2 separate regions of the Homo sapiens genome follow, and region 2 is linked to region 1. The links come from fine-mapping of genetic effects on gene expression. A gene starts in region 1. The other region holds a variant in brackets. All regions are shown on one strand. Distances are between the middles of the regions.

Region 1 (4,398 bases):
GCTAAGGTTTTGAAACAGGTTCCAAATTGGTCCACAGTGACCTCCAAGGCTCTACAGGAGTGGTCCTCAAGCTTCAGCTCATTGGGCCCCACTCCCAGAGTTTCTGATTCAGTAGGTCTCAGGAAAGGACCAAGAACATACATTCCTACTGGGTAATGAGGAGGCTGCTGCTGGTCCAGTAGTCACACTTTCAGAGCCACTGCCCTGTGAGCTCATGGCACTCCATGATTCCCGCCACACTGACATAATCCCCAGCTGACTTCAGTCTTGCTTACTCCACTCCAGGTTCAGCTTCCTTACATACACCAGGCATGCTCCTGCCCAGAGCTTTGCCCATGTGGTTTCCCCAGATACCCATGTACTTGTTCCTTTACCTCCCTCAGGTCATTCCTCATATGTCACCATCTCAGTGGGCCCTTCCATAAAACCCAGTTAAAAATGGCAACATCCTTCTCCCCTCACACGCTAACTGACACACACACATACACAAACACACTCTCTCTCTCACACAGCATACGTACACACACTCCCTATCATATCCCTTTCCTGCAATGCTTTTCTCCATACCATTTACACCATCTGATGTATTGTATGTGTTACTTCTTTGTCTCCTCTCTATACTGCCCCCTCCCTGCCCCCAGAATGTAAGATTCCTGAGGCAGAGATTCTCGTCTGTCTTATTCATTCCTGAATCCCAGAACTGAGAACAGTGTTTGGCACATAAACATTCAAAAAGAGCCGGTATTTTAATTGGGTGACTGTAGGGACCACAACCCTACCTATTTTCAGACCGTGAACCATAAAGAAGACAAGCTTATAGCTGAAGTGAATTAAGCACGATCAACTCAGTACTCACACTGCCCAGATGTGTCTGGCCAGCATGAGGGTGCAGAGGAAGACACCCTGAACTCTCCAGGGCCCTGGACAGATGGCCACTCTGTCTTCACTTTTCTCATCTATAAGATGAAGTTGTTGGATGATATATCAATATTTACAATGTTGTTTCTAGCTCTAAAACTCTATGCTTTTATCTTCCCTTGGATCTTCATGGCACCAGAAGGAAAGTCTTAGGACCCTTGGACCTGTGAGCAGATCAGCTATAGTCCTGAGTTGACAAATTTCTCTTGGCATTTTTACCCTTTGACTGCTGTCAATAACTTCAGCACAGCAAAGGTAGCAAAATTCTATTGGGAATCTTTTCCCAATCAAAGCTACAGCCCCATAGCTGTGTTGCCTTTTTGGTTTTGTGTGAAGCAAAATTTTTTTCCTGGGTCCTAATTGGTGCCAAATCCAATATTACTACATTTGCGTCAACTCAGAAGTCAACCCATTCAGTTTGCATAGAGGAAACATCTAGAAATCTTGCTTTTCTTTGCTGACCTTGATATATTTGAGATTTGAACATATAATAACATATAAAATTATATGTTATAATTTTGGGTTTTATGGGCTAAGTCATAAACCATCTTATACATAAATTCCAATAGAGAAAAAATGGTGGATGCTGAATTTTAATAAAAAATTTATGACAGAGAAACCTAAAATTGAGAAAATTTGATCTTACAGTTTAATTTCTGCAAATTAAGAAGCACTGGCCCATCAATTGCATTTCAGAGCACAGAGTGGAAGAAGGTTAGCACAGACTGGCATGTGGCTTCACATCTACTAGTTGTTACACCTTAGGAGGATTATTTAACCTCTCTGTGCTTCAGTTTCCCCAACTATAAAATAGAAATGACATGATAGCACCCAACTCCTAGGGCTGTTGAGAGGCCCAAATGAGGTGATACAAATAACATTTTTGAAGTGGGCCAGGCACCCAACCAAGTCTTGACCAATGTTGCCTATTATTATTCATTGCTGAAGGCTGGAGTGAGAGGCATTTAGGGAAAAGTAAGCTCAGGCAAAGGAGAAAAAATAAGAACATTGTAGGAAAAATGGAAAGATTCACAAGAAGGGAGAGGAAGAGGCAGCACAAATATATTGGAGGAGCTCCACATGCTTATTTGACTCAAGACCTGTTCATTTGAACCTTTAGAAAATCGTTCATCTTTGCTTATACAGAGCTTCATCTGGTGTGTCCATGCCAGGGTGCAAGAGTTGTCTGTGCACTCAGACTTTTGAGCAAGGCTGTTTCAAATGTTCTTTTAGGGTATTTGTCTCCACAAAACTCTATAGCTGGGCCAGGAGCATCTGGATCCTGCAACCAGGGATTTTCCAAGAGCAATCTTTTATATTGAGGGGGAAAGTTTAAAGGTATTTTTTTTTTTTGTCTTGTTATGTTTTTAAGTAACTTTTCACAACTACAGGCCTGTAAAAAATAAGGGTTGGGATAGCCTGAATTCCAGGGCTCTTGCTGGGCCCACTCTGCTCAATTTGCCTCTCGTTCCAAGGTGAATCAGCAATTTCCAAGGCCTGTTGACACCCTCAGAGGGTTTCCCAAGCACACTCTGTGTTTGGGGTTATTGCTCTGAGTATGTTTCTCGTATGTCACTGAACTGTGCTTGGGCTGCCCTTAGGGACATTGATCCTTAGGCAAATAGATAATGTTCTTGAAAAAGTTTGAATTCTGTTCAGTGCTTTAGAATGATGAAAACCGAGGTTGGAAAAGGTTGTGAAACCTTTTAACTCTCCACAGTGGAGTCCATTATTTCCTCTGGCTTCCTCAAATTCATATTCACAGGTAAGTAACTTATACTTGTCTCTGCAAATCCATTCCCTCTTCCCTTTAACTCTTACTTTGTGGAGTGGAGTGTTTCTGGTTTATTAAACATTGGTCTCTTGTCCAGTGTAAACAACGCTACAATACTTGGATAGAAACTTACAGGATGCATTAATGATTTCACAACATTGTATACAATACAGATGACTCTTGGTTGCTGTCTTCTTTATAGCAATGCTATTTCATGTATCAATCTCTTAGAGAGAGAGAGAGTGGTGTACATGGGTGTGTGGTACAAATGGCCGAATAGATTGAATAATCTGCTCAAAGTAAAAATACCAGTGGGCTTCTTTTTTAACTTGGCTTTGTGAAAGCACAATTCTGTTTGCTCTGATAATCACAGATTCAATGATCACAAATTCTACCCTTGAAAGCTGGTTTAATGCAGAACTACACCGACTTTATCTTTTCTCCAACACCGTACTCATTTCTTCATTGTCCCGGTTTTCAAAAATATAGATGCAAAAAAAAATGAGCTGTGGATGCATGTTTAGAGGGGAGAAAGTTTGTTTCTAGGATCTAATTTCAGTTTTTAGGTCACCCAAGCCAGTGGGAGTCACATATTGCTAATGGCTTGAGCACAGAGATCAAATATTATTCACACTTCAGACTGGGAATAAAAGACAGTATTTGTCAACATTTTGAGGGGGAATAGCTTTTTAGAGATGTTAGAGACAAATTATAGTGGTTATACCTAAAACTTTTTAATATTAGGAGTTAGTAGTGGTTTTTATTAAACATTTGAAGTGATAACTTATTTATGAGCTGTTGTTTAATAGAAGTTCTTTTCTGTGGGCAACCTCGTCCCCTCACTGCTCACCCCCCTCACCTTGGTTCCCCCTGCTGTGCTCTGTAACACTGTGATTGTCTCTGGTTGAAGCCTCCATTTCCCTGTCTAGGAGCTTCTGTTTACACTCCACCCCACTCTAGATTGCAAGCCCCTTGAATAATTTTTGTTTCCTAGTACCAAGAATAATGGTGACAAATATTAGGGGATGACTCCTAAAAATGGATTAAGAAGCTATTTAGGGGGAAAATGCCCATTTTGTGGTTTTAAAAGATGCTACAATTGCCATAAAATGCCCAAGTTTCATTGCAGAAATCAAATACTGGAGTTGTGTTTTGCTTGGTCAAGAGGAAAGAACTGGCCGGGCGCGGTGGCTCACGCCTGTAATCTCAGCACTTTGGGAGGCCGAGGCGGGTGGATCATGAGGTCAAGAGATCGAGACCATCCTGGCTAACACGGTGAAACCCCGTCTCTACTAAAAATACAAAAAATTAGCCGGGCGCGGTGGCGGGCGCCTGTAGTCCCAGCTACTCGGGAGGCTGAGGCAGGAGAATGGCGTGAACCCGGGAAGCGGAGCTTGCAGTGAGCCGAGATTGCGCCACTGCAGTCCGCAGTCCGGCCTGGGCGACAGAGCGAGACTCCTCTCAAAAAAAAAAAAAAAAAAAAAAAAAAAAGAGGAAAGAACTGTACATTTAGAGACAAAGAATCGCTGTGGCAGTTAACTTTGGTGTTACATTCTGTTTTCTTCCTAAGCAATTCTTTAGTCCTCTACCTCAACGGTGCCTCTGAAGAAAGGACTTACGTGGCCAATGGGATCACCGTGTATTTATTTCCCTTCCCTATCAGCCATAGCCCTCAGGGCTGGAAGGGCCTCATTTTAGTCTATTCC
Region 2 (4,398 bases), 36 kb before region 1:
AACAGATCAGACCTGCAGTTGACAGAGAATCTGCTGCTTCAGTAAGAAACTCATCTAAGAATCCTGTGCTTTTTGGAGACTTCCCCCTCCAGTTTCCAATTAATCATAAGATTCACAGATAGTGTCAAGAAGGCACAGAGAAAATAAAATATGAATTGAATTGGGACACTAGGGTGCTAAAGGACATTCAAAGAGAGTCCTGGAGGAGTTCAAGGCAAGATCCCAGGTCACACCGAGGTCATTTCTATGGTGAGATGGACCCAGCTCCCATCACTGGGTTCTAATGTGTTACATTAAAAGAAGTAGCAACATTGACCACAGCTTGAAAGACCACCGATTCATTCTGCAAGAGTGAGGAAAATCAAAGAAAGTTTAGATTGACTTGATAAATAAAAGAATAAATGACAAAACTGTCATCAGTTACCTTATTAAAGATGAAGTGGGACACAGAAACTGTTGGTGGACTTGCTCAGCTGATGGCAGCTTTCCTGCTGTGCACGGGGAAGGAAGAGTTGTGCCACCCTGGCCAGGCTGATCCTCTTGAGGTCGAGGTGCCTGGGTTTCCGTAGAGCTCTGAGTACTACATGTGTGAGGAATCCTCAGGTTCTCTCCTTGCTCTGTGAGTCACTCCCATTGTGACACAACGTGATGACTAAATATCTCTTGAATAGCTCATAAAAGCCAAGAAGCTGTAGGTCGCATGTTTCAAAAGGAATCAGCAGTATAAATTTAGCTACTTTTAGAAGAGACTTTAAAATGATCAATAACATTCATTTTATGATTAGTACAATCTCTTGACCAAATTCAGCAGCAGAAATAATATAACAAAGAAATAAATATTTTGTAAACTGCCTGGTGCGTGGTTTTAATAGTTTTCAAATTGTGATTATTCTTCATAATCTCCATTTTTTCCTTCCTGTTAGCATGCCTTGGCTTATTTAACACTCCTTCCCTCCTAAGAGAATAAGTAGGAGAAATCAGTCTCTGAGATTGGTGTTACCATTTTTTTTAAGATGGGCGAGCAAGGAGATAAAAACAACATAATAAAATGAGGTTTTGGAATTACTTATGGGTCTTAATTTATGTTTTAAGGTATGACAAGGAGAGCTTACTAAAGTGGTCTCTGGAACTGAGACCGCTGAGAATAGGAAAGGATGCCTCCTCCCCTCCCAGAGTTTGTCTGTGTCAGAGTTGATCACAGTTGACCTGGCGTATCCTGGGACCACAGTGGAAAGTACTGAGGCCGCAGGCGAGGAGGGGAGGAGATGGTGCTAATCTAGCCTGCCACCCTTCACCTTCACCACTGTAGCCACTCAGGCAGGTACAAATACCACTTTGCTGATTTTTCATTTTCAGTTTCCTCGTATACCAGTTTGTTGCTATACTCTTCTGATTTCCCAGACTCTGTATTCCTCCTTTGAAAATTGCAGTTATTATGGTTCAACTGGAATGAGCACATGAATGAACATATCTGTCTAGGTAGAGTCAGGACACTGCTATCACCCTTTAAAATAAGTAGTGGTCTTTTTTCTTTAAAAGAACAACAAACCCACTTTGGGAGGCCAAAGCGGGCGGATCACTTGAGGTCAGAAGTTTGAGACTAGCCTGGCCAACATCGTGAAACCCCATCTCTACTAAAAATACAAAAAATTAGCCAGGCATGGTGGTGGGCACCTGTAATCCCAGCAACTTGGTAAGCTAAGACAGAATCTCTTGAATCTGGGAGGCCAAGTTGCGTGTGAGCCAAGATCGCGCCATTGCCCTCCAGCCTGGGTAACAGCGTGAGACTCCGTCTCAAAACAAACAAAAACAAACAAACAAACAAACTGAAATTTACTCAGGTTCACATTTAGGGTGCCCCAAATGTGCTAAATATGCTTTTTCCTCTTTAGCATTTCATAAGTATGGCTTAAATATAAAACCTCATAGACAATACATTGACTTAGAGCCACATGAAGTAAGGTATAAATAATTAATACTGAACCCTTCCTGTGAGCCTGTTATTGTCACTAAGAGGAGAAGAGAGCCTCATGCACCTGGGTGGTCATGCAGTGTTAACTGAAAAGGGCAAAGAAAAAGTTATAACAATAGTTAAAATTTTGCTACTTAATGAACTCGCCTAGTGCAGCCGTGTTTCAAAAACTTTCCAAATAGACTTAAAAAAAGTCAAATGTTTAGACTGATTTGCATATTGGAAATTAGAATTCTTGCCATCTATCTGGCTTGTCCCTCAATTCCTGTGGGCCCAACTCATGGGTTCAGTTTCAGTATATGGCACCACAGCCAGAACACCCCCTCTCCTTGTCCAATGGTCCCACATAGGCGATCAGTTAATGAAGTCATGTTAGCAGTGTCTTATCCAGACTGTAACCATATACACATTCAAATTCATATCTCAAGTGCCAAGTTGTCTTTCATTTCACCTCTTTAATATACAACCTTTGAAAGTGCTACTTTGTTCAGAACTCATCCTACATTGACTTCAGATCAAAGATCACATTAAAAAAAAAATCTGGAACCAAATTGCCATTTGAGTTTTTTCCTAGTTCCTTTTTAAAACAAAGGAGTGCACTGTGCATTTTATTTTAATGTTTGTAGGTGGAATGTAAGTATACAGTGGTAAGGCTAGATGCCACCACAGACAACACACTAAAGATAGAGTTATCCTTTTTCTTCTGAATCTGTATGCCTCCCATACTTCTACCCAAGAGTATCTTCTCCACC[C/T]CTTTCCAAATACCAAAACATAAGGAGGAAACTCAGATCTGAGGCTGTCTCAGGAGACATACGTTAGGCTTCCTGCAACTACACCATTCTGGGGATGGTCTAAGTCACAGATCATTCTAAGATGAGCTTCAACTGGAGGAAAGCACTTACTCCAGTGTGCAGGCTGTGGTGGGTCCAACTTCTGGAGTATATCCAGTGTCACTCTTGTAAGGCTGACCAGGAGGGTGAGGCTGGTGATAGAGCATGCACAGTGGCTTCTTCCTTCTGGCATAATGATGTAATCCTCTCTCTCAAGTCATTCTCAGTGGAACATGTTTCTCTGAACGACTATAAGCTGCTATGAAGACTTCATGTTTTAAAAGTGTACTTTATATTTTCTTCCTCCTCCCTTTGTCAACAGGGAGTTCTCTTATTTCTACTGTAAAGGGAACCTGTACTTTGGTTCCCTTTTTATACAAACAATGCCTTTGACATTTGAGTAGCTTCTTTGGCTAGGCTTGGTCAAAACCAGGAGCTTTGTTACCCATTTGGCCTTTCATGACTCTCCCAGCTGTAAGATGAAGCAGGGCTAATCTTTTGTTTTTCTCTACTATGCAATCTTTAGATATACAAATAGAGATGGAGTCATGGGAACATTTGATAGATTCTTTGAATAAAGATTTTTCTTATTTACAGAGCACATATCCTTTTAGCTTACCCAACAAGAGGTCCTGCGTTGAAAAGTGAAGTGAGAAGTATTATATGGGGAATTATTGTTCTGGTAGATGGAGCAAGAGAGAAGATAGGTGAGAATGAAAGTAACAAATGAACAGAAACACTGTGGATTTTCAGCAACTTGAAAGAAGGAAAGGTGAAGGCTAAGAAAATGTGTCTGTCACAGAGGGAGGGAGGTGGGTGCTCCTTCTGGTATGACCATCACATGTTCACATGTGAGCATTAAAAATTTTTTTCCTGGCTTAAGAATGATCTTCCTGCCAAGTTTCCTAGTTTCTTTCAATCCCTTTCAAAAAGAAGGCAACTTCTTTTTCCCAGAATCTTAACTGAGATGATAAAATATCAAATGAAATTAAGAGCAGATGCTAGATGCAGCTGATTGTGTAATATGCAAGTACTATCCAGTGGGAAAGAACTCACGGGGATTCATGAAGTGGGGAGGAGTGAGTTAGAGACAACTGTCTTCAGATCCTGTTTGGCTTGTTCTGGACTTTGTTTTGGGTTGTTCTGGACTTCAGACCCTGTTTTGGGTTGTTCTGGGCTTTGGTTCTGTGTGAGGCCTATTTGGCTAAAAAGATCCAAAGATGAATAGAAAGGGGCCTTTCTATTGAGGAATAATTCACTGTTAGCTCATTTATTGCTGAGTAAGGAATCTCATAGACTTTCCCCTCTCCTTGGAGAACCCCTGATTCTTGCTGGCTCCTTGAGACTATTTAAGATTGTGGGGGAAAGGGCGATCTTATCCTTTGCTGATGGATATGTGAATTGCTACAGCCTTTTTTGAAAGCTGTCCAGAAAAAAAATCTGTTAAAATAAAAAGCTACTATTTGAGACAAAAATCCTGCTCCTAGGATTCTATCCTATATAAATGTATATAAGTGTATATGAACAGGATGGGGCAAAAAGAACTGGGAGCAAAGCAAGTGCCCACTAGTAGTGAGATAACTGAATAAATTGTGG

What was found. PIP is the estimated chance that this variant, and not a neighbour inherited with it, causes the effect. A credible set is the group of variants that fine-mapping cannot tell apart.
Region 2: its variant is the best candidate, but not a certain one, in a credible set for the expression of ABCB11 in nasal epithelium (TOPMed, PIP 0.69).

The regions. Positions count from the first base shown.
Region 1 is chr2:169,029,510-169,033,907 of GRCh38, reverse strand. ABCB11 (ATP binding cassette subfamily B member 11) reads left to right here and starts at 2,584. Exons shown (of 28, transcript NM_003742.4): 1 at 2,584-2,683.
Region 2 is chr2:169,065,744-169,070,141 of GRCh38, reverse strand. It overlaps DHRS9 (dehydrogenase/reductase 9), which reads right to left and starts at 579. Exons shown (of 5, transcript NM_001376924.1): 1 at 425-579. The variant C/T (reference allele first, on the strand shown) is at 2,725.